Regions from separate parts of the Homo sapiens genome. Here regions 1, 2 and 4 are each linked to region 3. The links come from fine-mapping of genetic effects on gene expression. A gene starts in region 3. Each other region holds a variant in brackets. All regions are shown on one strand. Distances are between the middles of the regions.

What was found. PIP is the estimated chance that this variant, and not a neighbour inherited with it, causes the effect.
Region 1: its variant is the best candidate, but not a certain one, in a credible set for the expression of CSF1R in whole blood (TOPMed, PIP 0.78).
Region 2: its variant is the best candidate, but not a certain one, in a credible set for the expression of CSF1R in breast (GTEx, PIP 0.90).
Region 4: its variant is the best candidate, but not a certain one, in a credible set for the expression of CSF1R in whole blood (INTERVAL, PIP 0.78).

Annotation. Positions count from the first base shown.
Region 1 is chr5:150,107,939-150,116,227 of GRCh38, forward strand. PDGFRB (platelet derived growth factor receptor beta) reads right to left here. Exons shown (of 23, transcript NM_002609.4): 23 at 5,901-8,008. The coding sequence ends at 7,825. It also overlaps a transcript of CSF1R not described here. Among named protein-coding and RNA genes, the nearest start is that of CSF1R, 26 kb to the left of the region's middle. RefSeq lists a silencer at 2,108-2,402, enhancers at 3,448-3,960, 4,671-5,420 and a promoter at 5,332-6,110. The variant T/C (reference allele first, on the strand shown) is at 5,267.
Region 2 is chr5:150,061,058-150,067,607 of GRCh38, forward strand. It overlaps CSF1R (colony stimulating factor 1 receptor), which reads right to left. Exons shown (of 21, transcript NM_001288705.3): 11 at 666-792; 12 at 434-538. Among named protein-coding and RNA genes, the nearest start is that of CSF1R, 22 kb to the right of the region's middle. RefSeq lists a silencer at 3,778-3,953 and an enhancer at 5,904-5,953. The variant G/C (reference allele first, on the strand shown) is at 2,650.
Region 3 is chr5:150,082,084-150,090,372 of GRCh38, forward strand. It overlaps CSF1R (colony stimulating factor 1 receptor), which reads right to left and starts at 4,471. Exons shown (of 21, transcript NM_001288705.3): 1 at 4,296-4,471. The coding sequence starts at 4,344. RefSeq lists enhancers at 1-202, 4,529-4,558 and a promoter at 4,344-4,776.
Region 4 is chr5:150,117,644-150,123,642 of GRCh38, forward strand. It overlaps PDGFRB (platelet derived growth factor receptor beta), which reads right to left. Exons shown (of 23, transcript NM_002609.4): 15 at 5,399-5,558; 16 at 4,237-4,397; 17 at 3,561-3,679; 18 at 3,245-3,367; 19 at 2,369-2,480; 20 at 1,824-1,923; 21 at 1,104-1,209; 22 at 1-207. Among named protein-coding and RNA genes, the nearest start is that of CSF1R, 34 kb to the left of the region's middle. RefSeq lists enhancers at 517-1,104, 2,765-3,672. The variant C/T (reference allele first, on the strand shown) is at 3,030.

The sequences.
Region 1 (8,289 bases), 26 kb after region 3:
CACAGCCTATTGTCAGAGCCAGGAGAGGAACCAGGCCACTGGGGGAGTTGCAAGATGTCCTGGGATCACCGGAGAGAAGAGTCAAGGAAGGCCCTATCTGAGTTGAGAGGAAGTGAGAAGGGTGAGGAGTTGGGGGAGAGATACAGGGAGGAGGAAGGAATGTTCCAAGAAGGAGAAACAGCACAGTAAAGGCCTGGAGGCGTAAGAGTGCACAGGGTATGGGAGGCTAAGAATGCTGAACAGATGTGAGGGCCCATAAGAGGCACAGACAAAGGAATGCGAAGAGAAATCATTTTCAGCTGAAGAATGAGGAAAGCTTCTTGGAGAAAGTAGCTTTTGCTGGGCTGGAAGCTTGAGCAAGACTTTGACCTTCAGCTATAAAAGACTGGGCATTCTAGGTGGTGACGGTAGCACCAAAAAAAGGGGCAGAGGTCAGGAAGCTAGTGGCCCACACAAGGTGGATGGACCTTGGAGGGCAGATGTGGGAGAGGCAGTAGGAGAGGTTGGAATCAGATCAGGGAGGGCCTTAAAGATTCCATGAAGGAGTCTCGACTTTGCTGGGCCACGGGGAGCCACTGAAGATGTTTGAGCAAGGGAACACCAAGACCATCACTATGCTTCAGGAAGATCAAGAATGAAAAAGAAAAATTTTCAGATGTGGAAGCTTCCCTCTTGTCTCTTCAGAGGGGAAAAAAGGGACTTAGAATTCTGTGATTTTCCAGAAACTGTGTTACTTCCCCATGTTTGTGACTTTTCTAGTTCCTGCAGTGAAGACCCACAAAATCTAAAACCAGAGACTGTGGATCTGCAAAGGGGAGCTGGGCAAGGGCAGCCTGCTGTGAAGCCCTGCAGGAGAAGGCGAGGAGCCCTGAGCAGGTGGGGGGTGGGAGCTGCTGGAGAGGGCAGACCTGTATGCCAAGAACATGTGGGTGAGGGAAGAGCCAGCTGGGAGGGGGTGGTACAGGGAGACAGTTCGGCTTCTGTGATGTCCCCAGGTCCCTGCCCCAGGCCAATGGTCCCTCGCCAGACCCCTACACAGTGGTGGCAGATTTTCTTCCAAGCTGTGGGAAACTTTCATGGCCCAGAGCGGCCCCAGAACCCCATCCCAAGGAGAAGCCCGCCCCCCCCCCACCACCCAAGAAATTCCAGGAGCCACATTCTGTGTAGGCAGCTGGCCCCTGACCCCAGGGCTCAGCCTGCTGGCCACTCTGAGATCTGGAACTGGACCTAGACACCCCCGGGGAAGGTAGGAGCAGGGAGGCTGGAAGGCAAGAGCCTCCCTGCAGTGACTGTAGCCAAGCCACTTGATGGCTCTGAGCCTCAACCTCCTCATCTGGAGGCTCCTCTCACAGGCTAATCGTGAGGATCCGATGGGACCACTGGTAGGAGCACACCCTACACCATGAGGGACTGGGGCAGAGCAGGGCGGTGAGGGAAGGCTGGGTTTCCCGACGGGTGGGATGCCCTGTCTAGATGTGGGATGATGGATTAGTAGAGCTGCAGCAGCACTGAATGGCACTGTGGGAAGCTTCCTGCCTTGCCAAGTCCTCTGGGTGTTTCTGGTTATGCCAAGGAGAATGTTTCAGCTTGGCGCATTTCTGTCTTCAACTCTTCTCTGTCACCCACTTATGACTTTTCTCAATAAACCAAAGAGGGTCCATACTTCCTCCACCAGTCCAGAGTACTTAGCTAGAATTAAATAACGTTGTTTCTGTTGTTTGTATGTTTGATTTTCTCAGCCGCCCAGGGCACTATATGTACTTAAAAGGGAATTTTTAGACTTCAGTGACATTTTAAATGTTTATTCTCTTTACTCAACAACTCAATGTCTAGGAATTTATGCTATGGAAACAAATACTTAAATATGCAAAAACAAACATATTTTATAAATAATGGCCATTGTAGCATAACTTATAACTCTAAAAAATGGGAAATAGTCCAAATGCCCCTCAGTAGGAGATTGGTGTTAAATATAGTGAACCCCAAGTTTCTCTTCAAAGAATCAGTATGTCAATATGTTCAGCTCTCTTATTCTTTGATTCTCCATTTTAAAGTTTAACTTCCTGGATCTCTTCGCCCCCTTGCTTCTGGTTTCAGTAAACAACTTTCCCACCAGTCCTAATCAGTTCACATCTGTTCCCCTGGTCACCTGCTTTGACCTGAGTCACCTGCTCCATCCTGACTCATCCTGAGCCACCTGTTCGTATCCACCTTTCCCACCAAACTACTCACCCCGGCACTCCAGCTCATGCTCCTGCTCTTTTTTTTCAAATAGCCAATTGGAATTAGCTTAGACTATGCGGTCCAACCCTAGCCAATAGGGGAACAATGCAGCAGTAGAGGCTGCCTGTGTCAGGAATAAGAACCTCTTCCCCTCCCCTGTCAAGGTGTGCTCTCGCCATTGTTCCATCTGCCAGGAGCACCCTCTCTGCAGAAAGTAAAAATTGCCTTGCTGAGGAAATTAAATTTATGTTCGAGTGCTATTTCTTTGTGGCACTGGGGAACAAGCATTTTGCATTTCTGACATTGGTTAAATAATGTCTGGCACAGGCTTGCTTTTAAACTATGTGCATCTCTCAAAATGAATGCATTAATATCTGTATTTCCCATGGACCTATGAGTATGCCCATGATATATTGTTAAGTGAAAAACAAAAAGTTGCACAATGACAAATGGGAGTTTTGTTGAAGATTATAGCTATATTCTATGTAGATAGGTACAGATACAAATATTAGTATGGATATAAAGAAAACAACTTTGAAAAATATAACTAAACTATTTATAGTGAGAGGCAGAATTTCAACAAGATAAATTTGTACCACAGAGTTGCTGAATAAAGAGAATAAAGATTTAAAATGTTACTGCATTTAACATATAAAAATACTCAAAGAAGACCTTCTCTTTCTATATTATGTATTTTGGTAATGGATTTTTAAATACAGGCATATATGACATAAATACTTGTATCAAGTAGTTTTTTTTTTTTTGTCAGATCACAGGACCTTATTAAGATGGAATCACTGCTAATTACATAGAAGCCACTTGCCTAAGCCAGAATCCATGAGGTTCACGTGAAGTTATAGTTGCACAAATTAGAAACAAAAGGCATATTCAAAGACAGAAGGAAATATCCTGATGCCCATTAAAAATAATTTTTAATTGCAAAACCGAACATTATAACTAAAATAAAAGGGGCCTGTTAGAGACGGTGCCCTGATTCAAAGAAGAAGGGACGTGAATGGGAGCTGTGAGACCCTCATCAGCTGCAGGTCAGGGCCCCGGCAGAAATAGCTCCTTTCAGTCTTTCCCTCTTTTTCCAGGAACAAGAACCCCGGCCGTGAGTGGGGTGGCGGAAGAATTGTGCAGTCCAAGTGGCTCATCTGTCTGGGAGGAAAATCCCAGCTCACCCGTCTTCCCTGGGCCCGCCTGAGGGGAGAGACTGGGAGGCAGGAGCCCAGCAGGGGCTGACCTGTGGTTACCCCAGACCCTGCCTGCCCTCTGCACAGGGGCCTGAGAGGCCCAAGCCCTCCCACAAATGAGTTTTTATTATTTTTCTCTAGCTCTCAGATGATGTTAGCTTTCCTTTCTCATCCAGTCCTTTCCTATCCTTTCTCTTGGGGAAACACAGTACCAGAAGGTCTGGAGACAGAAGATAGGAGTTTTGTCGCAGGCTTCCCCAGTCCCTAGCTCTGCAAATTTGGGTGGGTGCTTTACCTCCCTGAGTGCTGACTTGGGAGTCAGTCTGACCTGGGCTCCTCTCCCATCCCTGCCACACTGACCAGATGATCTTGGGCAAGTCACTTCAAAACCTCCCTGAATGCACATTTGATTTGGTTTGAATGCAAATCAAAATTGTGAAAATAAAATAAAATTTCAGGAGCTCCCCAATTCATTATGCCAATGGGAAAAGTTAAGCCCTGGAAACTGAGTCACATCACAGGACTGCTCTCTGACCATTGCCTCTTGATTTTTGTGTTGAGAATGTTATACTTTAACCGGGCTCCCCATTCTTTATTCAAACCTGGACTAAATGACACGCTGGTGATCATTACCTCTTTACAAATGAGTGTTAAGCAGCCCCCTTAAAGTGTAGTCAATAGTAGCCAATCAAATCTTGTAGCTCTACGTTAACCTTTGTATGGAAAATGTAATTGTGTTACCCACCCGTTTCTGGCTATATAAACCATCCTCACCTTGCCCCACACAGGGAAGCACTGATCACCATTCTCTGGTTTTCCTGTTTCCTGACGACTACCCTCACACTTTGCCCTTGAATAAACTTCTTTAACTAGAAAAACAAAAACAAACAAAACAACAACAGCTTGGACTGGTGTCTCATCTGTAACATGGGATAATAGTAGGACTCAGGTCACTGGGCTTTTGGGAGGGTAAAATGAGCTAATGTGTGTGAAGCAACCAGACAGCCCTGGGGCATAGTAACTGTTGGATAGTGGTAGTCAGATTTTTATCAACCTTTGTCTTAGTGTGGCATCTAGCTCCATTTATCCCTGGGGAAACTGAGGCCTGATGTGGTGTAATCCACTCAAGTTCCCATAAGGAGCAGGCCTGAGACACAGGGAGCTGAGATCTTCTGACCTCCAGACAGAGGCTTTTGCACCAGCAAAGATAATCCCTGTCTGGAATGTGGGCTAGTTATTTTCTTTACAAGGCAGATCCGGGTATCACCTCATTCAACTCCTGCCACAGCTAGAAGAGAAGTCACAGGCTCTGGGTGTTTTCTGAAGCCAGGATCCCTGGGATGGTGGGCTTTGTATGGCCAGGCCTTATAGCCGTCGGGTATTTTCCCTGGTGTGGCTCAGCTGCCCCTGAGTTGGCGGCTGGGCCTGTGAGTCAGAGCTGTCCCATGGCTCCATTCTTTTCCCCACTTGAAGCCACAGCCCCAGACTCCTGGAGGCAGTCCAGGGAGGCCTGTGGTTCCAAAATGAGGTCCTTCCCGCACCCACTCAAATGAAGATGCCGTTTCCCCAGCTCAGAGAGAGCAAGGGAGGGGCTAAGGACACACAGTGATGGATCTGAGGCTGACATCTGGTCCACCTCAAGTGAGCCAAGTACAGGACTCTGGGCCCAGGTGGGAGGGCCCTAGCACTCTGTCCCCTGCCCCCAGCAACCCTATTGCCCCTGGCCCTGTGTTGCTGCCGGGGTCCCACAGGCCTGGGCTCGGCAGGAGAGCCTATGACTCATGCCGGCCCCACAACCCCTGAGATGCTGCAGCCGTGAGGGGTCTGGGTCCTGCCAGGTCTACACC[T/C]CTCTGCCCTCAAAGCCACAGCCTGGTCGCCACCCTATTCCCTCCCCTGTCCTTACCCTGGCCGCAGTTCCCTCCGCTTCCTCTCTTCCTCTTCCTCTTCCTCTTCTCTCTTCTCCACCTTCTCCTCACTTCGTGCTCTCACGCTTTTGGACACTCTGTCTGCCCTTCTCCTACCTGGGGCCTGATCATGACTCACCTGGACCTGGAATCTGGGCTCTAGCAGCTGCCTGTCACAGAGCACGCCGGCCTCAATCCGGGCCTGTGGGCGGAGTGGAGGGGAGGGTGTCCCAGCTGATAGCCAAAGCCAAAGCACATGGTGGAGGCAGTGAGACGCCTCAGCACCAGAGCCTTGGAGCAGCCCTGCAGCCCCACACCCTCCTGCCCGACTCAAGGCCAGGCTCTGTGGAGCCAGAAAAGCCTGCTCGCTTCCCACCTTGGGAAACCAAGCCCAAGGTCTAGGCCCCCCAGCTTCCAGCGAGGGGTGGGAGAGCGAAAATCCCCACTTTACAGATGAATGAAATGAGACTCAGAGCTGAAGGGACCTGTCTGGGGGTCTGCGTCTGGGTGAGCCTCATGTGCCCCACTCCACACTCCCTATGGGCAGGAACCCAAACCCGAGAGAGACCACAAAGTCTGTGAGTGAGAAGCACCAGGTTTAATATTAAAATCTTTCCCTTAAAAAAAAGTACACAGATAGAAAAACTCAACAGCATACAAAATAGCATTTCTGCTGTATAAATGTGAGTTAACGTGAGTCCTAAAAATATTTGTAAACCTAGGTGATTATATCTTTGGTACCGTATTGAGAACCCACTCTCCCTCCTTGGACCAACTCTGGGGATCCCAGGGAAGTAAGGTGCCAACCTGCAATGCAGGGTTGGTGCCCAGAGGGGTTGAGCTTCCTGCACCCCCTTCCCAACCCTCCCCGTGCGGGGGCGTCTTGGCTACAACCCTGACTCCCCTGGCACCTCCAATGCCCACTGGGCTGGGGACAATGAGATGTCACTGCTAGGTCTGGGCAGTGACAAAACCATACCCCCATGGAGCGCTGCCTCAGGGATGGGGCAGCTGGTGGGTGAGGGGCAAACCTCCAAAGCGCCCACCTCTCACATCCTTCTTGGGGTACCCATCTGAAGCTTCTTGTCTTTTACAAGACATAACTGTCCTCACTGTCCATTCTGTCTTCGACGCAGACCTCGGCACAGGTGCTGGAGTGGTGGGCTGCAGGAGGTGATCTCATTTGCCCTCTTTGTCCCTTTTGCCCAGGATACCCCCGGAGGTCATCGTGGGTAGTGAAAGAGGTCCCGTGGTCTTCCCATGTCCCTGGGGCAGCTGCTGGGGGCTTTCCAGGACACCGGCTGTCACTCTAAGTCAAGGCCTGTGCAGCTGTGTTCTTGAGACTTGCTGGGGGCCTGGGGAAGGGGCATGGTTCCTGAGTCCCCAGAGTGTGATGTGTGATCTGGAATCTCCCAGGAGCCCAGCTGACCCCCAGGATGGAAGTTTAGGGTATATGGCCTTGCTTCATCTGGACAAATGTGCAACCACCTGGAATACTCTAGAATGTTAGTGCTGGCAAGGCACTCAGAGTTAATAAGTCCGACTTATTCATTTTTTGAAGGGGAAACTGAGGCCCAGAGAGGGTGAGGGATTCCTCCAAAGCCTCATAGCAGGTCCAATGCAGAGCCAGGGCCATATACTGGCACACACACGTGGCCACTCCACACTGGCACATTTACATTCTCATCACAGATGCGGGGCCCGTCTGGCCTTCTAGACTCTGGTGGATGGATTAAGACTGAGGGTGATAAAGAAAAAGCCCCAGGACTGATGGGCCTGAAGGACAGGGACACAGGCACTTGCTATGGCTGCGTGTGCTCCAAGTGCCCTGGGCAAGGGCTGCAGGCTGGGGGTGTCCTGTACTTGGCTCAGCCTCCAGCATTAATTAGGCTGCCTAATGGCCCCAGACCAGCTCGGGCCAGGGAACGCAGGGACTGGCATCATAGGGAGGAGACTGGCTTTCTTCTGGATGAGGCAACACTGCTCAAGGCTAGGCCCTAGCTCAGCCAGCAGCCAGGGAGGCTAGGGTCTCTTCCCTAGCTCCTGGGTGGATAAAAGTGCGAGGAGAGAGCTATGATTCCTTGAGGGGTAGCTGGCTGAACAGAAAAAAGTTAATTTACCACCTCAGTAACTCCAAGAATCTTCCCAGGGAGGGATTCGGTCTCCCCACCTGTCAGCCAGGGAGAGAATCCTAGATTCTGGGTCATCAAGCCTAACTTTCCCATTTTACATATGGGAAAACTGAGTTCCCTGGGGGAACCCTGGCTCAGAGTCAGTTGGCCTCCCTGGAGGCAGAGGGCTGGTCACGGCCCCTGCAGTTTTCTTGCCTCCTAAGCCAGCCCCAGGGTTTGGGGCACAACACGTCAGGAGCAGAAAGCTTCCAGAAGGGGACAGCTGATAAGGGCAGCCTGGCTGACAGGAAGCCCGGTCAGGCCAGGCCAGGAGATGCTGGGTGCTGGCAGGGGGGGAGCTTCAGGCAGGGCAGGGTAGGGGCCAGCCCCCTACAGGAAGCTATCCTCTGCTTCCGCCCGAGGCGCAGGGCACCCCGAATCCGGCAACTGTTCCAGCTCTGGCTCCGGCTCCACCTGGAGCTCAAGCTGGGGCTCTGGCTCTGGTTCGTCCTGGGGCTCCAGGGGGCTGTCACAGGAGATGGTTGAGGAGGTGTTGACTTCATTCAGGGTGGAGCTAGAGGAAAGAGGCAGTGAGTGAGGGGCTAGGAAGGAGCCCAGGAGGATTCCAGCAGCAGTCATGAAGAGCCTTCGGTGTGTCCACCCCTGCACCGTAGGCTTCACACACTCCGGCTCATTTAACTCTTGTGAAAACTATGCAAGGCCTGCACCGTGAGGAAAGTGTGGCTCAGAGAGGTTATATCACTGCCCCACTTCACACAGCAGGGAAGTGCAGGAGCTGGAACTTCGGAGCAGGGTCAGCTGGCTCCAAAGCTCGTTTCTCACCCACCAGCATCT
Region 2 (6,550 bases), 22 kb before region 3:
CCCAGGGGAGAAAGCAGGGCATACCCCAAGACCCGGAGTGACCAGAAGCCAAAAGAAGGAGAAGGAAAAATGCAGACACACAGATGGCAGAGAGAGAGAGAGGAGGGATGAGCCTGTCACTGAGCTGGTCTTCAGGTGACAGGAAGCCAAACTGTGGCCAGGCCATGGCCATAGGTGGCCTTTCTGCACCCCCAGACTTTTTGGAGCTCAGTCAGGAGCCCCTTCACAACTAAAGGGTGACCTAGACCTTCTTGGAGCCGGGAGTCAGAGGGTGCCTGGAGCTCACAAGAAAACCCAAGTCCTCACCCCTGAGCTCTGTCCCCCAGGCTTCAACAGGTTGAAATGTGTGTGATGCCTCTTGTGACACCAGGGCCAGCCCACCCCCAGCATCTACCACCCCCCATCCCTTCCCTCATCCCCTCCCCTCACTCACACTTCAGCATCTTCACAGCCACCTTCAGGACAGCATCCTCCTTGCCCAGACCAAAGGCCGTGGCCTCCACCACCTTCCCAAAGGCTCCAGCTCCGAGGGTCTTACCTGCCACGCACACAGGTCCCTTAAGTCCCTGGGCACCAAAGGGCCTCTGTCCAAGGGCCCATGGGCTCCCTGCAACCCCCACAGGCCCTGTGATAGGAAGCTGTGGAGTGATGAGCTGCCATCTCACCAAACTGCAGGTTGTTCCGGGGGAACTCCCACTTCTCGTTGTAAGGCAGCTGCGTGGGGTCGATGAAAGTATAACTGTTGCCCTCATAGCTCTCGATGATCTTCCAGCGGACCTGGTACTTGGGCTTCTGCAGAAGAGGAAGGGAGCACGTGGCAGTCGGGGCTGGCAGGCAGTTCCTGGACCTTGTTTCTGACCCCCAAGAGCAGGGGTGTGGGCAGTCCCAAGGCGCCCAGTGGGAGAAGGCAGGGCAAGGCCTGCTCTGGGCTGAGAGAGGTCGTCTCATGAACATAGCACTGAGAGCATGTTCCTGCTTGACTCTGCCTTGTTGTGTGACCTTCCCTTCTCCAAGCCTGTTTCACTATTTGTGTATTGAAGACCTTGGACAAGACAACCTCTGAGGGCCCTGATATCTCTGATAATCTGGTAATTCCTGAGCCAGGAGGGAGGGTGGAACTTGAGATCTTATCCATCCGTTCATCTGTCCATCCATCTACCCATCCATCCACCCACCCAACCTCCCATCCAAATATATATATATATTTTAATTGTGATAAAACATACATGAAATTTACCATTTCAACCATTTTTAAGTGTATGGTTCAGTAGTATTAAGTAAATTACATTCTACCTTGTGCAACCAGTTTCCAGAGCTCTTTTCATCTTGCAAAACTGAAATTCTGTTCCTGTTAAAAAGCAACTCCCCTTTCCCTCCTCCAGCCCCTGGCAACCATGATTCTGCTGTCTCTGTGAATTGCACTGCTCTAGGCACTGCACCTCAGTGGACTCACACAGCATGTGTCTATTGAGATTGCCTTATTTCACCCAGCATAATGTCTTCAAGGTTCATTCATGCTGCAGCACAGGTCAGAATTCCCTTCCTTTTTAAGGCTGAATAATAGTAGCCCATCCACATACTTTCTTGAACATCTATTTGTGTCAGGCACCGCTGATTCAGAGTTGAACAGGACAAAGTCCCTGCCCCTCCATGGAGTTTGCATTCTAGTGGCTGAGAGAGGCATTAAACGCAAATAAACATGTATCTAGGAGATTCTCAAGTGGTGCTATGAAGAAAATAAAGTAAGATAAGTCAGGGAAGGCCCCTAAAGAGCCCACCATGTGACCATCAGAGGAAGAATTTTCCAGGAACAGTGCATGGAAATGCTGTATGCTTGACATGGGAATGATCCTGGCAAGTTTGAGCTATAGGAAGGCAGCCATCATGGCTTGAGGGAAGTGGGGGGCAGATTCCAGAAACAGGAAGGCCTTGAGGGCTATGATAAGGTGAGTGGGTTCCCTTTTGGGATTTTTTTTTTTCCAAGACAGGATCTCTGTCCCCCAGACTGGCATGCAGTGGGGGCAGTCTTGGCTCACTACAGCCTCGACCCCCGAGGTTCAAGCAATCCTCCCACCTCAGTCTCCCAAGCAGCCGGGACTACAAGCATGTGGCACCACACCTGGCTAATTTTTGTAGAGACGGGGCTTTGTCGCAGCCTAGGCTGGTCTTGAACTCGTGAGCTCAAGCAGTTTGCCTGCCTCGGTCTCTCAAAGTGCTGGGATTACAGGCATGAGCTACCATGCCTGGCCGGGCAGTGAGAGACCCTGAGAGTTTGACACAGGTGAGTCGCCATCTGACTTTTTTTTTTTGAGACAGAGTCTTGCTCCTTCACTCATGCCGGAGTGCAGTGGCACGATCATAGCTCACTAGGCTCAAACTCCTGGGCTCAAGCAATCCTTCTGCCTTGGCCTCTCAAAGTGCTGGGATTATAGGCGTGAGCCATCGCACCCAGCCTTGACTTTACCTTTTTGAGAGAGAAAGAGAGACGCTGCCCACTAGATAGATTCTGGAGGACCAGCACCTTTGGAAAGACCTGATTTCCTTCCTTAGGCTCTCCATGCTGTTACCACCCAGCCAGGGGAGGCAAGCCCTGGGATGTGGGGAGGAGGAATGGCTGCCCCTGTTTCTTGCCCAGGGGTCAGCTGCTGA[G/C]GGGGAGTACCATGCTAAGGGTTGCCCACAAGAAATGCTGATGGAAGACCAAGTTGAGGGGGAAAGTGGAAGCTGGGCTGGGGCGGTGGAGGACACTGAGGCCCTGGGTCAGCAGAGCAACTCTTTCCGGCCAGGCCTTGGGGATGGGACAAGCTTGGCTGTGCCTGCAGCTGGGCTCCTTCCCTGGGCACCCGAGCTAGAAACTTAAAGGAAGTGTGGACCGGTGCTAGGGAGGAGGCTGGCCTTTAGCTGCAAGTCCTGGTTGAGAGAGAAGATTCCAGTCATGTCCTTTGCAGCAACGTGGTGCAGCTGAAGGCCATTATCCTAAGCAAATTAACACCGAAACAGAAAACCTACATACCGCATGTTCTCACTTATAAGTGGGAGCTAAATATTGAGTGTGCATGGGCATAAAGATGGCACCAACAGACACTGGGGGCTACTAGAGCAGGGAGGGTGGAAGCGGGCGAGGGTTGAAAAACTATGGGAGCTATGCTCAGTAGCAGGTGATGGGATCCATATTCCAAAGCTCAGCATCACGAAACATACGCATGCAACAAACCTGTACGTCTATCCCCTGAATCAAAAATAAAATGTGGACATTTTTAAAGAGAGAGACAGGGAGAAAGCTTCCAGCTAACCATCAGGAAGAACTTCTAGCTGGTAGTTAGAGAGAAAAGACTGCAATTAGAAATGAGAAGGAACTAACTTCCAGGCTCTGATTCGGAAGGGCGGACTGCAGGTGAACTTCAGAGCCTCTGCGTTATAGCTTGGGAGAGAGTCTGAAACGGGACCCAGGGAGAAGAACTTCCCAAGCCTCTGAGGATCCAAATCCTGCCCGTGGGTGCCTTCCCAGCCCAAAAGACAGCAACAAGGCAAGGAGGGGATTCTTCAGCCTCTCCTGGCCACTTCCATCTCTAGGAGCCTCTGTGGCTAAGACTGTTTTTTCTTACCACTTCTTGTTCCTCTGTCCCTCTGCAGCTGGGCTGAGTCAGCCCCTCCCTGCCCCCAGCTGGGCAGGGGGCACTGTTGAAAGGGAGGGGATCAAGGAGGATGGAGGTTTGGCTGGATTCTCAGATTTCTGAATCCTAGGCTCCTAATTTCTGGAAGCGGACCAAGCTGCCTTCTGCCTGCCTCAGGAACCCTCCCCTGCCCCTGCTGGGCATGTAAACCTCCCAGGGCACCTGTGCCATCCCTGGAAAGGGCTCATGGGCGTCTACCCAGAGGCAGCCTCTCTTCCAAAGAACTATGAGTGAGAGATCAAGAGGTGGGGATGGGCGAGGCTCCCTGAGAAGGGTGGACGTAATTGTCATGATGGCAGCGGGTTCTTCCTGAGCTCTTCCTGGGAGTGGGGCGCTGGGCTAGATGCTTGAAGCACATCACCCCATTCATTCCTTGCAATGGGCCTAAGCCCCAGGCCCACCCCCTGACTTCTTCCCTTCCTCCCATCCTCCCCACCAAAGGGGGCATGGAGACAAAGTCCCGGTCCCCTCCCCATCTAGGCCTGCTGGTTCTGGGTGAGTGGATGTTCTCCATCCCAGGAAGGTGGAGATCTGAACAATTCCCAGTGGAATCTTTGGGGACCCTCCTGTTGCTCCTCAGAGCTCAGTTCCAGCCCCCAGAATCGTAGTCTTTCCAGCAGCCTCCCTGGACCCTCCCTTCCCTGCTGCCTCAGCCATTTCCCTGTGCGCCTCCTCCTCCAGGGGAGCCTGCTGACTCCTGCCCTTTTCTCTTCCCCCACGGCCCCCCTTGTGGTCACTCTGGGGGACAGAAAGGTGATGATTCAGCCCTGAGGCAGAACAAACACTCCCCACAGACAGGCCACTTCTTTCCCCAGGCCTGGGCAATGAGGAGAGGCTGGGCTGAGTCCCCAGTGAAGGGGCAAGGCTCCGAACCTCATGGGGCAAGGCAGAGGAGGATGGGAGGGCAGGCACTTAGCACGGGCATGACCATCCTGCCCCCTCCGCTCCCATGGGTGGACACCTCGGCCTGGAGCTAAAGGGTCTGTGAATGGGTGTAGGGGAGGAGGGTAGCTGCAAGTCTTCTCGCAGCCTTGCATGGGCTCCAGGGGCAGCTGAATTTCCTGGACAGGAAGTGTGGAGGTGACATGTTCCAAAAATGGTCCCGTGGAGAGGGGATACAGAGTTCCTAAACCACAGCCAAGGGGGCTGGCCAGCCCAAGGCAGAAAGGGCCGCAGGGGGCCCTAGGCTCTTCTCTGGAATCTCTGCATGACTGTCCTGGCAGCTCTGTGGGCACTGCGAGGCAGTTTTCAGTTCCATGTAAGGAAGAACTTTGCAAACATTGGAGCTGCTCAGAGAAGGAACAGGTGGCCCCGAGAGTGAGTAAGGTCCTGTCCCTGGAGGTGGGTGGGCTGGGCCAAACAACCGCTTTGGGTGTGTAGTCAAGGAGATGATGCCCGACCTCAGACCTCCCCCTCCTTCCACCATCCCAAGAGGCATGAGCTAACTCTGGTTCCCCAACGAACTTCCTCCTGGGACAAGAGTGTGCAGCTCCCATCACAGAGACTGTCTCGTCCAGCACCCCGCTCAGTCCTCTATGTGCGTTGTGGTACGGAATCCCTCACAACAGGCTGTTAATGATCCCATTTTACAAATGGAGAAGAGACTCAGACACACCAACTTTCTCATCATCCCATAGCCAGAGCTTGGCAGAGGCAGGATTTGGACCCAGATTCACTGAAGTCCAAGTTTCTGGTGCTTAAACTAGACCACCAGTGGGCTCTTGGCATGTCAGAGGAGGAGGGGCTGTTAGAGAACACCCAGACCCATGGTATAAGAGGGGAAACTAAGGCCCAGAGAGGACAGCGAGTCAGCTGAGGTTACATGGCAAAACAGTGTCAGAGCTGGACCTAGATCCGGAGGTATTGACCGGGGCTGCCCTCAGAGCAGCCTTCTCATGCTGAGTGCTGGCAGGAGTAGAGATCCCGATCCATGTGCCCCTGGGGCTCCCCCAACATCCTTCCCACCCTGCCCACTTCAAGCCCTCTTCTCACAAAAGCCCCAAGGGGGTGTGGGGAAGAAAAGGTAGCCAAGGGGACACAAGATGGGTCATTCAGTCCTTGATCACACCACTCCCTTGTTCAAACCCACTGATGGCCTTGGACCGACAGGGTGGGGTCCAACCCTTCAGACCCCCAACCCCACCCTGGTCCTTCCCTCACCTGCACCTCTGCACACTCTGCCCTCTCCCCCAGAGGTACCCTTTCCCTTAGTGTCATCTCCCCTGCTGCATCCTCATCCTCCAAAGCCCGTCCCACCAATGCCAAGCCACCTCCTCCAGGCAGTCTCCCTTACCCACCAGCCTGAAAAGTCCGTCCACCTCTGAACTCCCACAGCCCTCTGGCCTGGTCCTCTCAGCTTCTGATCACATTGCACATGGTCTTTGTGTGGGCAGGCAGGCAGTGGAGGCCATGGGCTCTAGGGACAGAAGCCCCTGGGGCCCAGTGCCAACCCTATCCCTCAGCCCCTTGGGGTTTTTTTTTTTAACCTTGCTGAGCCTCAGCTTCCTGATGGGTAAGATACTGACTAGTATACTTCCTGCCTCCAGCTTCTTGTGAGGGTAAAATAAGATGAGTCAATGTTTCACATAATGATTGGGACATGCTTTGGAGTGAGTCCTCCTTCAGGGTTAAAAACCAGACTCTGCCTTTGACCAGCTGTAGACAAGGGCAACTGTCCCAACCTCTCAGAACCTCAGTTTACAACTCTGTAAAACAGACTAATGCTAGCTGCATACAGTGGTTGCTGAGGGCATTAAATGAGATGATGTAGGTAACATGCTATAGAAAAATGCCCCTCAAATCACTGTCATATACTGAGCAGACAGTGACAGGAAGCACACTATACGCAACATGCACTAAATTGTGGCTTTGGCTAATAG
Region 3 (8,289 bases):
TAGCCACTCTCCTCTCTCCAGGCAGGGAGAGGGAGTGCCACTTGCGGGGCAGCTGTGAGGCTGGGCTCTGACGCTGACCCACTGGCTGACCCTGGCCATCCAACTCCTCAGCTCTGGCCCTTCCTCTTCCCAGTGATGGGGGCACAATGACAGGCCAGCCCCGAGGGCTTTCGGTGAATTCAGGGTATCTCCATTGTTCTCTGCAAACCCCCTTGAAATGGAAATTCCCCCTGCCCCACCATAGAGCCCAGAATTGGAAAGGTTTCCTCTCTCAAGTCCTTTCAGGATGGCTTAATTCACGTTTTGATTTTGTATTCATCAGAATGTGCATCCCTTCTCCCCAAGACTCTGATCAGCAAACGAGATTGAGTGAATTGTGAATACTGCCAAGCCTGCCACCTGGGGTTGTAGCCCTCCTATGCAGTGCAACTGCCAGGAAGAGGGACAAGTGTCATTTCTAGCAGCCTTTTTAGCAAATCTCAACAGAGCTGGGGCTGCCCTATCACTGCTGCAGCAATCTAGGGCCCCCAGGCCGGGGTTTTATAGCAGGAAACAGCTTGGAGTGTGGGCTCACACCAACTTGGGTTTGGATCTTGGTTCTTCCCTTACCAGCTGGGTTAGTTTCTTAACCTCTTTGAGCCTCAGGCTATTCTTCTGTCTGATGGGAATAATCCCAGCTCCCACCCCAAAAACTTCAGCTGAAGGTTGAGTGAGATGATGTATAGAACTACTCCTGCCCTGGGCACCTGCTTTAATTGCTACATTTCTAATGTCCCTTCTGGGCCAACTCTGATCGCTCAAGATTTTAACCTTGGATTCTGTGATTCCATTTGTTCCTTTTTTACACCTGCCTCACACCTTACAGTGGGCTTCTCCCATCCCTTCCCCCAGCCTGTCTCTCTAGACCCTGCCTTGGCCTCCAGGAAATGTGGTCAGGGAGCGGTGTCTGCCCTATTTTGTCCTATCCTATTGTCCCAGGTATTCACGCAGGATAAGGCTGATACCCGCAACTTCCGCAGCCAACTTCCCCTGCTGGCTTGGCTAGCAGGGAAGGAAGCCGGCTTGGCCCCCATCCTCCTCGGGGTGGGGGCATGGGCTTATGAACATTAACTGAGGTCCCCTTCTGTGCCTGTCCATTCTTCCCCCCTCTCATCTCCACTCCCCAATTCTCCCCATGCCCCACACCTCTCCACTAGCTCCCACTTGCCTGGAAGCCCCTCCCTCATCACTTCCAGAATGTGCCCCAATCTCTACTCTTCTCTCCCAACACACACACACACACACACACACACACACACACACACACACACACACACACTGCACACTAAGGCTGGACACAGCCCCTCTTCAGCCCAGGATCTCATCGCAGTAATGAAGAGAGAGCCCCCCTCTCTCTCTAGGGTCCTCCAATACCATCCCCAGTCTCCTCACAGTGGCCCCTCATCCACTCATCATTGGTCTGTTGGGCTGAAAACTTAGGTTTCCAGCCTCCCCATCTCTTCTTTCTCTTGGGACTGGACCCTGGAAAACCATCTGGCCCCCCTCCCACACACCATGCCCCTGTGAAGGGAAAATAAAAACTTGGGACCCTAATTCACTCTGCCAAAAGGAAAAATCAAGCTGGAAACTGAGTCATGCAAGAAGCTGCCTTGCCTTTTATTCCTAAGCAGATAGCGACAGATAAAAGGTAAAATATCCCACAGGCAGCTCCTCTATGTTCACTTTCCCTATGTAAAGAGCCAATTTACTGAACCGAGATAATTGACTGTTCCCCTACCTGCTGCTTTTCTTTTGCAACATGTGGATTACCACAACCTCCCCTTTTCCCCTCCAGCCCACTTTCCCCTTTAAATATTAAAGCCCTCGAATTCATCCAGAATGGCACAGACCACAGAATGTTTTTGTGACTCCATGTTTTTTTCTCGCCAGCATGTCCTTAACCTTGGCAAAATAAACTTCTAAATTGATTGAAGCCAGGCACAGTGGCTCATGCCTGTAATCCCAGCACTTTGGGACGCCAAGGCAGGGGGATCGCTTGAGTTCAGGAGTTCGAGACCAGCATGGCCAGCATGATAAAACCCTGTCTCTACCAAAAATAAAAAAATTAGCTGGGTGTGGTGGCAGGCACCAGTAATCACAGCTACTCAGGAGTGGCAGAATTGCTTGAACCCCGGAGGCGGAGGTTGCAGTGAGCCGAGATCCATGCCATTGCACTCCAGCCTGGGCAACAGAGCAAGACTCGGTCTCAAAAAGATAGAAAAAAGAAAGAAAGAAAGAAAGAAAGAAAGAAAGAAAGAAAGAAAGAAAGAAGGAAGGAAGGAAGGAAGGAAGGAAGGAAGGAAGGAAGGAAGGAAGGAAGGAAGGAAGGAAGGAAGAAAGAAAGGAAGGAGATGGAGTCTTGCTCTGTCGCCTAGGCTGGAGTGCAGTGGCATGATCTCAGCTCACTGCAACCTCTGCCTCCCGGGTTCAAGTGATTCTCCCACCTCAGCCTCCTGAGTAGCTGGAACTACAGGAACCCACCACCACACCCGGCTAATTTTTGTATTTTTTAGTAGAGAGGGGGCTTCACCATATTGGCGAGGCTGGTCTGAAACTCCTGATCTTGTGATCCACCCGCCTCGGCCTCCCAGAGTGCTGGGATTACAGGTGTGAGCCACCATGCCTGGCCACAAGACTCCATCTCAATAAAAAAAATAAAATTAAATTGAGACCTGGCTCAGATACTTTTCCGTTTTTGCCCCACAGGCAGGTTGTGGGTGTAAGGATAGGACAAGGCAGTGAAATCAAACCTGTGGGACTCTCTGAGATGAAGGGGGTGGCGGGTACACTGTGTGTGCATTTGTCAGACCTCATTGAACTTAAGAACCTGTGCTTTCTACTGCATGTAAGTTACATTGCAAAATAAGAAGTCCAGGCCGGGCGCCGTGACTCACACCAGTAATCCCAACACTTTGGGAGGCCAAGGCAGGTGGATCACCTGAGGTCAGGAGTTCGAGACCAGCTTGGCCAACATGGTGAAATCCCATCTCTACTAAAAATACAAAAATTAGCCAGTCATGATGGTGTATGCCTGTAATCCCAGCTTGGGAGGCTGAGACAGGAGAAACACTTGAACCCGGGAGGTGGAGGTTGCAGTGAGCCGAGATTGTGCCACTGTACTCCAGCCTGGTGACAGAGAGAGACTCTGTCTCAGGAAAAAAAAAAAAAAAACCCAAATACTCAAGCTCAGTGTGATTGCCTGGGCCAGAGAAGGATGGTCAGTGGGCCATCTCCTCCTCATCAGGGACCAGAAGCGCCACGGCCTTAGGGTCCTTCTGTGAAGAGGCCAGTATGAGGCTGTCCTTTCTCCCCTTCAATCCCCATCCTCCCCCAAGGTCCCTTTGAATAAGCAGGCAATAGAAATGTGTTTGTTGGGCCAACAAGCCAAGCACAGCAGCCCCTCACCTCTAGTCATGTTCCCTCCCAGATGGAAATTCTGCAGAACTGCTACAGCCTGGGGACCTCCTGAGACTTGGCAGCCTGTGTCTGGGAGGGCTCTGGTCCAGGAGACCCTCACTGGCCTCTTCCCAATCCCTCCTCTAGCCCTATACCTATTTCACCCCGAATTCCCCTCTCCTGAGCCCTGGGCCAGAGAGGCCAACCTCTTGTCTCTCCCCTCTGACCCCTTACACAAGCCACCCAAGGAAGAACCACCACCCCTATCAGGCCCTTCCAAATCAGATCTTGCATAGAATCATCGAATCACAGGCTGGCAGAGCTGCCAGAGCCATCAGGAGCTCTCCAGGTCCTCCCAACTCAGTGTAGGTCTGGACCAGCAGTGCCGGCATCTCACATCTCCCAGGAGTGTGTTGGATATACAGAATCTCAGGTCGCACCTGAGACCGACTGAGTCTGAATCTGCATTGTAACAAAATCCTCAGGTAACTTGTATGCACAGGAAAGTATGAAAAGCACTGCTCTGGTCTAGTCTATCACTGTCCCCCTGCCCCCAACACCTGCAATTGAATAGAAGTGGACACTGAAGCCTCAAGAGTATCAGAGGCTTGCTCAGGACACACAGTGAGTCGCTGGCAGAGCTGGGACAGATCCACAGCACCAGGTGGACCAGTTCCACCACACCCATCTCTTTTCACCCCACTACCTCTCCAAAGCAGATACCCACAAGCCTGCAGTCCAGTGTTGGGGAGACTAAAACAGCCTGAGGACACCCAGTGAGGGGCAAGGACTGAATCCTTTCACAGGGGTCTTCTCCATCACACCCCAACAAAGTCCCCCACCCCCCGTTCTGCTCTTACCATGCCAAGCTGTGGCCACCAGCAGGAGCAGCAGAACTCCTGGGCCCATGGCCTCGGTGGGGAAGTGGCAGGCAGGTGCAGGGCTGCAAGGTGCCCAGGGCACAGAGCTCTCAGCTACTAGCTCCGCAGGGATCGGGACACTGGACACACGTTCCTCTCCTCTGCACTGGCTGTTTGTCTTGTTTTCCTCTTCCTCCTCCTTGGGCTGATCCTCTTCTTCCCCTTTTAGCTAGGCAAGGCAACCACAGAGTTTGGAAATCTTGGGTCTTTAAGAAGAAAACAAAGCCTTGAACCCAAGAGGGAGGGGTCGCAGTCTGGGGCAGGGCCAGCCTGAGCTTGGGGGGAGCTAGCTAAGTTTGGGGCCCTTCTAAAGCCATCTTCAAGGGGTCTTGGGAGAAGAGACATGTCCAAGAGCAGCCAGACCGTTAGTCAGTAGCACAAATGAGGGTCTTCAGAGTGATCAGGTGGCTCTGGCAGATCCCAAAGAGAAGTTAGGTTGCATGATATTGTGACATATATATTTTTTCTTTACCCTGATGTCCTGGCTTACAACTCCTAAAATCCTTGGAATCTCCAAAGTAATGCATATCTTTTAAAAATTTATTATTATTATTTTAGAGACGCAGTTTCACTCTGTTGCCCAGGCTGGAGCTCTGTGGCTCGATCATAGCTCACTGCAGCCTCAAACTCCTGGCTCAAGCCTTCAAGCTGTGAGATCTGACGTTATCTCTAGGTAAATATAGTGTTCAAATTGAATCGGAGGGCACCAGATTCGTGTCTGCTGCAGAATCTGAACAATTGGTTGATTGCTTGGTGTATGGGGAAATATGCCCCATCCTCTACATCTGGGGTCAGAAGTATTTTGTGTTGTGAGACTATAGGAGAAACGGAGTTTGTTTTCTTCCTGTATACAGGTTGGTCTGGGAGAGCCTGATAATATTGGCAATAAGCTTCCTTTTACAGGACATTTACTAGCCAAACCTTTTACATTCACTGTCTCCTTTAGTACTGCAAAACTTTATGTAGGTAAGTACTATTGTCATTCTCATTTCACAGATGGGAAAACTAAAGCTCAGAGAGATCAAATGCCTTAAGCTTGTCCATAGTCAAACAGCTACCAAATGGTGGAGATAGGATTTGGATCCCAGCAGTCTGGTTATAAAACTATCTTTTGTGCGTTACTTACATTGTTTATTTATTTTTACAAAGAATCTAATTGTTCTGCATAATTCTTAAAATATATAGCATTCCTTTGCTCCCTCTTTTCCTGGAGGCAATTGCTTTTACCTCTTTTAGTTGATTCGCTTAGTATTTTACTTCTTATCTCTAAAGAACATGGTCATTTCTTCTTCTTTTTTTCTTTTTTTTTTTCTGAGACAGGGTTTGGTTCTGTCACCCAGGCTGGAGTGCAGTAGTGTGATCTCGGCTCACTGCAACCTCCACCTCCCGGACTCAAGCCATCCTCCTACCTCATCCTCCTGAGTAGTTGGGACTACAGGGGCATGTGCCACCATTCCTAGCAAATTTCTGTATTTTTGGTAGACATGGGGTTTCACCATGTTGTCCAGGCTGGTCTCAAACCCCTGAGCTCAAGTGATTCGCATACCTTGGCTTCCCAAAGTACTGGGATTATAGGTATGAGCCACTATACCCAGCCTAAAGTTCCTTCTTGAAATTGAAAAATCCTGATATAACATTGATCCAGGAAAATGATCATTCCCGTGTACTCAGGTGTGTGTGTGGTGTGTATGTGTGTGTTTGTATGTATATTTATGAGTGTATATATGTACTTTCTTTTTCAGAAAAGTGTTTTGAACCTTTAGCAATCATGAATGTCAATCAAAGCTGACTCAAGAAGAAAAAGAAAATCCAAATAAACCTATAACAAGAAAAGAAATTTAATCAGTAATCAAAAACCTCCCGACAAAGCAAAGCCCAGGACCAGATGGCTTCACTGGTGAATTCTCCCAAACATTTAAAGAAGAATTAATACCAATCCTTTTCAACTCATTCTATGAAGCCAGCATTTTTCTGGTACCAAAGCTAGACCAAGACATTGCCAGAAAAGATAACTACAGACCAATACAAATGCATGAATATAGAAAGCAAAAATTTTCAAAAATGTACTAGCAAACCAAATCTTTTTTTTTTTTTCTTTCTTTCTTTCTTTTTTGAGACAGGGTCTCACTCTGTCACTCAGGCTGGAGTGCAGTGGAGCAATCTCGGCTCACTGCAACCTCTGCCTCCCGCGTTCAAGCTATTCTCGTGCCTCAAACTCCCGAGTAGCTGGGATTACAGGCATGCGCCACCATGCCCAGCTAATTTTTGTATTTTTAGTAGAGACAGGGTTTCACCATGTTGGCCAGGCTAGTCTTGAACTCCTGACCTCAAGCAGTCTGCCCATCTTGGCCTCCCAAAGTGTTGGGATTACAGGCGTGAGCCACTGCACCCAGCCACCAGCAAACCAAATCTAACAGCATATTAAAATGATTATATACCATGATGAAGTGGGATTTGTCCAAGAAATACAACAGTGGTTTAACACATGAAAATCAGGGTAATACATCACATTAATAGAATGAAAAAAATCCTCATATGATCATGTCACTTGATGTAACTGTAAAACCCAACATGCTTTCATTAAAAACAAAACAAAACAAAACCCACCCAACAAACTAGCAATAAAAGGGAACAGCCTCAACGTGATTAAGGGCACATGTGAAAAAGCACAACTAATTCAATGGTAAAAGACTGAGAGCTGGTCCCTTTACATCAGGAACAAGACAAAGATGCCTGTTCTCGCCACTTCTGTTCAACATAGTACTGGAAGTCCTAGCCAGAGCAATCAGGAAGAAAAAGAAACAGAAGGCATCCAAATTAAAAAAGAAGAAGTAAAACTATCTCTGTTCACAGATGACATGATCCTATATATAGATAAATCCTAAAAGATCTACAAAAAGCAACTATTAGAGTTAATATACAAATTCAGCAAACCTGCAGGATACAAGATCAACATACGTAACTCTATAGTACTGATAATACTCCAATAAGGAAATTAAGAAAACAATTTAATTTGCAATAGTATCAAAAATAAAATATTTTGGAATAAACTAAGGAGATGCATGACTTTACAATGAAAACTACAAAACACTGTTGAAAGAAATTTAGAAGACCTTAATAAATGAAAAACCACCTTGTTTTCATAAGTTGGAGGATTTAATAAGACAGCGGTACTCTCAAAGTGAGACTGATTTATAGGGTCAATATAATCCCTATCAAAATCCCAACAGCCTTTTTCTGCAGAAATGGAAAAGCTGATTCTCAAATTCATATGGAATCTCGAGGGACATTGAATATGCAAAACAATCTTGGAGGAGTCACACTTTTCAATTTCAAAACCTACTATAAAACTACAGAAATCAAAATAGTGTGGTATCAGCATAAGAATAACTATATGGATCAATAGAATAAAATTGAGAGTCAGGAAGTAAACTCTCACATTCATGGACAACTGATATTCAACAAGGGTGGCAGGACCATCCAATGGAGAATGACCAGTTTTTTCAACATAGGTGCTAAAAGAACTAGATAGTCACATGCAGAAGAATGAAGTTGAATCCTTATTTTACATCACATATAAAAATTAACTCAAAATGAATTAAAGACCTAAATATAAAAGCTAAAATTATTAAAACCTTAAAAGAAACCATAAAGGTAATATTCATGACCTTGGAATTGGAAATGATTTCTCAGATATGTTTCTAAAAGCACAAGCAACCAAAGAAAAATTGGACATAATAAAAATTAAACATTTTTGTGCATCAAAGGACACTGTCAAGAGAATAAAAACACACAGAATGAATATTTATATCCACAATAAATAAATATATCCAGAATATATACAGAATGAAAGTTGTAGTGTTTCCTCAGCAAAAATCACTCTTGGTGCATAGTTCTATGAGTTTTGACAAATATATATAACAATGTAACCACC
Region 4 (5,999 bases), 34 kb after region 3:
TGGGCCCTCGTCAGCAACCTCGGGTTTGGGGTCAGGCAGGGGGATGATATAGTCGTTGTCACCCTCATTGGGCTGCACGGCAGTATAGAGGACGGAGCTGGTGTCCAGGGGAGATCGGAGGCCATGGAACCCAGGCAAGCGGGCCTGGGACCGAAGGATGGCTGGGTGGTCACTCCTCAGAAACTCCTCATCCACCTGCTGGTACTTCTGCTCCCGGGGCAGGGAGAACCAAAGAAACAGGGATGGTCAGGCCAGAAATGCCTTCAGGGATCTTCTAACCGAGCCCATCCCCCTTTGTATAAATAAGACCCCCGCTGCTCAGAGGGGAAAGGGATTTGCCCAAGCCACATGGTTGAGCTGCCCTCCTACCTCACATAGAATCTTACAAGGCATGGTGAGCTCAGGACCACCCAGGGAGGGGCAGTTATCAGACCAGCACCCAGGACTCTAACTCTTCCCCCACTTCAGAGCAGACAGGCACAGGCTCTCATGCTGCCTCAGCGTCCTTCTTCAGGGCCTCAGTTTCCTTTGCTGTGAAGTGGTGATGACCTTACTCCATCTCCCAGGTCCCTGGGACCATCCCCGGGGGGCAGTGGGGGTGAGAAATGGACCCAAAGAAGGAGCTGCCTCTGTGTCAAAGGCCATGTGTATTTCCTCCTCACTTGGACCCGTGTTGTTGGACGGGGCAGGGTTTCAGGGCCCTACTGGCTCTTTGGGCCTTGGACAATCCTGTGACAGGATCCAAGTGGTCAGGCGGTTCATGGTCATGTAACCTGGGGTTATTCACACTTCTGAAGGAGCCCCACGGTTCGGTATGGAGGTAAAGGCCTGAGGGAGGCAGCAGGACAGACAGTGCTCTAGGCCCCCTCCCTGCATCTAATCGATCAGCTTCCATGTAGGATTCCATTTCATAAAGCTCTCTGCTGCTAAAATAAACTCACAGCGCCAGCCCATCCCCTCCTAGAACCAGCAGGGAAACTGAGGCCCAGAGAGGACAAAGGGTGGTCCCCTAAATGCCAGCCCATCACGCAGAGCCTTGTACTCGGTGTCTGACTTCTGCACCAGAGCTCTCCGTGCTCCACCCCTACCCTGCCTCAACATACCTTTTTGTAACCTTCGCCCAACAGTCTCTCGAGAAGCAGCACCAGCTGGGAGAAGGGGGGCCGAATCTCAAACTTCTCTTCCCAGCACTTCTGCATGATCTCATAGCTGGGGATAGGGAGAAGGGTCAGGGCCTCTGGCCCAGGGTTCAGGGGACAAGGCAGGGCTGGGGGAGCAGGAGGCTGCTGCCTCTCAGAACAAGGTGAGCCATGGAAAGGAGCTGGAGGGAAGTGGTGGCTGGGTGTATCCAGAGGTCCTGTCTCTGGATATTCCCTTGGGAGGCCCTCGCAGAGCCCCCATTCCACATGGTTCCACAGGTTGACTACGCCTGGGTGAGCACAGGAGCCAACCTTCGCCAACAGTTTTCAGCCCTGCAGCTTCCACGGTTGGTTCTTGATGGCATGTGACCCCACCTGAGCCCTTGAAGGTCAGCTCTGGGACTTTTGCTGGCACTATGGAGCAAGCAGTAGGACATGAGACTGGCACTGCTGGTAGCCATTTGGGCAATGCTGGCCTGAAAATGAGGCCACACAGAGCAAAGCAGAGCTCAGGGCTAGAACAAGAGGTTCCTGATGCCATCCTTTGAATGGCTGGATCCAGTTACACCAAGGCTTTCTAGATCTCTGAGCTAACAAATCTCTCATCTTTGGTTTAAGCCAGTAGAGTTGGATATCTATTGTTTGCAGCACAAAATCCTCCCAAATGCATGAGACTCCACTCACATCTCGTCGGAGGCATGGGCAGGCTGGGCCATGCGGTAACCCCGTTTGATGGCATTGTAGAACTGCTCGTTCATGGGCAGCTCTGGGTAAGGGGTGCCACCTGTTGGGGAGCAGAGACAAGAGATACACAGGCTCAGGGGTGGAAAAGTGGCAGGGCACCCTCTTCTACAGGACAAGGAGAGCCATGCTGGCCCTGGTATGGGTAAGGGGGCAGTGCCCCTGGCATTTGGAACTGTGGGCTCCTTCATGGGCTCTGAACAGAGACCACAACCCTCCCCAGGATAGACAGCCAGAATGTGAGAGCCAAGCAGGCTTTCTGATGTCACTGTTCAAACCTGTCAATGCTCAGACAGGGAGATAAAGAGACCCAGAGAGGGCAAAGAATTTGCTAACATCACACAGCAGGGAGAAGGTAGCAGAGCTGGGACCTGAACCAGGATCCCTGTATCAGGGCTCGTCCCATAGCCCCACCAGGCCAGAGGCATGAGTGGTCGAGGTAGACACCAGGCCAGGATGCTGAGGGCTGGAGGAGGAAGCAAGCATACCCAAGGTGAAGATCTCCCAGAGCAGGATCCCGAAGGACCACACGTCGCTCAGGGTGGTGTAGAGGCTGTTGAAGATGCTCTCCGGAGCCATCCACTTTAAAGGCAAAAAGGTCTGTAGGGAGGTCAGGACAGGTGCTGAGTGCAAGGAAGGACCTCAGCCCCACTCTGCACCTGGGATGGGAGGAGGGTATCTGGCAGCTCCCACCCACAACCACTTCTCCGTCCCATTCCCTGTGAGGGCCCTGGTCTCTGCGCAGCACAGTTCCCATGTCCATCCCAGGGCTGGTCAGAGGACCAGAGGCTGTTTCCTTTCTCACTAGCTGGGGACAAGGCAGCCCCTGTCCCTGGGGAAAAGCCCCAGGGTCTGAGTAGTGAAGTGTGGGAGCCAGGGACTTGTCAAGGCACCCCCCAAGCTCTTATCCTGGCTGCCTTTGATCTCTGGGCCTAGCGTCCCTCCATCTGGGGTTTGCGGAAAAGTGGGGAGATGAGAGACAGGCAGGATGATCACGTTTTAACCAGACCAATCCCTGCTACTGCATGTGACCTGCTCATCTTTCTTGCCCTGTCACCTGGGCTTCTTCCTCTGCCCACCACCACTGGAACAACACATTCGGCCTGTTCCCCCTTCCCCCACCCTGGACCCATTATAGCCAGCCCTCCC[C/T]GCCGCTATACTTGCTCCATGCACTCCTGGGCGGCTCCCCATCCTGTCCCTGCACACATAGCTGGGCAGGCACAGCCCATCACTGCTGTCAGGGCAGGCCACAAGGAGCCCCACACAGATTTCCTATGAGCTGCAGCCACACTGGTCAGGAGGGAATCTGTTCCTGCGGTCACAGGCACTGTGACTGCCCTGCAGGGGCCAGGGAAGGTACTCACGCTGCCTTTGGAGATGTAATTCGAGTCCCGCATGATGTCTCGAGCCAGGCCAAAGTCACAGATCTTGACCAGCTTGCCTTCACAGATGAGCACGTTCCTAGCCGCCAGGTCTCTGTGGACGCACTGGGTTTGGGGAGAGGGGAGCTGAGGCCTTGGGGACAATTGTGGGGAAAGACCCTTCATGTCAAGGGCTTTGGGAAAATACAACACTGCCCATGTGCGAGAGGCCACCCTGGTGTGCTCTTGGAGGATGCTGGCTGGCTGGGTGACCCACCTCCCCACAGCCCCCACTCTGCCCCACCAACACCACACGTACGTTCTTGGAGGCCAGAAACTCCATGCCATTGGCCACCTGGTAGCTGAAGCCCACGAGGTCCATGTAGCTTAGCACTGGAGACTCGTTGATCAAAGTTGCTCGGCAGGTCCTCTCAGGGGCTAGAGGAGAAGCAGAGGGTCACCTGCTATCTTATATCTCCTTCTGGCCCACAGGACCCCTGCCCTTTGGCTCCTGGGAGACTGAATGTCCAAGACAGGTGGCTACTGATCGTCTAGGTCTCCCCTAAAAGGAGAATGATTTCTTAATATCAAACTCAAAGTTCTCCTGCTTTATCAGTGCCCTCATTGGCCTTTTGGCATTAGCCCTTGGGCCACTTTTGCCCAGCCTGGCCTGCCTGCCTGCCTCTCAGGGACACTAGACCAGCCTGGGGCTGAAGCTGAGTAGATCACTTTCCCTACCACGACAAAAGGCCAGGTCCTCCCATATCCCTGCTCTCTCCCTCCCTGAGGGTTCTACGCATGTTTCCGGATCCATAAACAGGGCTTCCGTTTAGGGGTCCACTACAGATCAGTTTTGGCCAGGTGGCTAGCCTCAATTTCTACATCTATGAAATGGGCACGAGGCTCCCTTCTTCTCAGGGTTTTTGGCAAGGCTGGGCATGTGAAGAGCATCAGCCTGTTTGGATGTGGGGTACTATGTCACTATGTCCACCCACCAGAGGGAACGTAGTTATCGTAAGGGGCCATGTAGTTGGAGGACTCGATGTCTGCATATTTGACGTCTCCTTTCATGTCCAGCATGGGCACATAGTCCACCGACTCGTCCTTGCTCATGTCCATGTAGCCACCGTCGCTCTCCCCGGTCAAGGACACATGGCTGGGGGTAAAGGAGCATCACAGGAGAGCCTGCAGGCTTTGCCTTCCCCTCCCCTCCTGCCCCTTGCCACTCATGAATTTCTTCTCTCACTCACACACTCACTCATCTTCCTTCAGTCTATCCCAGTAGGAAAGCCTGTGGATCAAGACTTTTCAACCAACCTGCTGGGCCAAGCTGGGCACTGAGGCTACCAAAATGACAGTTAGAACCCAGAGAGCTCACACCCAGAGGCGATTACAGCACCCCAGGGCAAAGGTCACAAGACGGGTGTGTTCAGAGGCGCCTTCCTGTGGCCTCCCCAGCGCCACCTGGCCATGGGAGTGCCTGACTGCAACCCAGCATAGGCAGCCAGGATTCACCCCGCTACCTATGCCTGTAGCATCAGCTCCCCAAAGAGCTGTGGGGCTCTACACACATCTGTCTCTATAGGCAGGAAAAAGATGGGAGAAGCCCTTTGGCTCCTGGGAGACTGAATGTCAAAACATTGGAGAGGACATGAGTGGGTTTTAAGGTCTTTTACGCTTTTCTGAAGCTACTCTTGTCTTTGTTTTTGTAATCAGCAACAGAACTAAGAAGTGTTCTTTTTGGAAAAGACAAAGACTGGAGTTGAGCTCCCTGAGAGGCAGTGTGGAGGCTGATGTGTAGAGGCTGCAGAGAGGAACACAGCCTGGAGCACCACTGTGCAAATTGGGAGGCTTGGCTCTCATCTCACCACAGCCTCTGCCCCTTCCTCCATCACTGCCTGCCCTGGACTGAAGGGCAAACACCCACGACACAGGGATGGCATGTCACATCTGTAGAGGGCTTAGCAGCACAGGGCCTGGCATTAGTGTTATTCCCTCATCTGGGGTGGACCATCTTGTGGAACAGCCCTAGCTCCAGGAGTGATTCTGTCCCCTGCCCTGTCACAGCCTCAGCTTCCCCTCCTGGACAAAAGGAGGGGAAGGAGCGGTGCTCCTCAGGTATCCCAAAGATTCAGTCCCTGGCCTCCCTCCTGGTACCTGGGCAGGGGGAGCCCAACGGGCAGAGCATTGCTGTAGAGCTCCGCGCTGGGCGGGCGGCGCTTGTCGGAGTGGTGCTGCAGGAAGGTGTGTTTGTTGCGGTGCAGGTAGTCCACCAGGTCTCCGTAGCGGCAGTACTCAGTGATGATATAGATGGGTCCTGCAGAGGGACAGGCTCAGGGACAGTCCCTATGGAGGCCTCAGGCGTCCCTTCAAGGCCATGAGGCTAATCAGGGGCTGGATGTGGGAGAGACACTTTGGCATGACGGCTAGGAGGCTTTAGTGCCTTGCAAATCTGGATTCTTTTCCTGCCTCTGTGGTGGAGAGCAAGGTACTTAGTCTCCCTGAGCCTTACCTTCCCCAGCTGTTAAGTGGGGCTAATTAAACCCACCACAAAGCACTGTCATGAGGATTAATGAGATGATGTCTTTATTGGCTGGGCACGTGGCGAGCTCGCAGTGTTGGCTCTTATTGATATGTTTTCAAACTAAAGCTTACTTTGGAGCCCAGTATAGAAAGCAGATAAAGGCCACTGTTTACAACGATCACTTTAGTAGTTAAATTCAACTACAATGCATTTACTTAAAGTCAATCAGTGAGA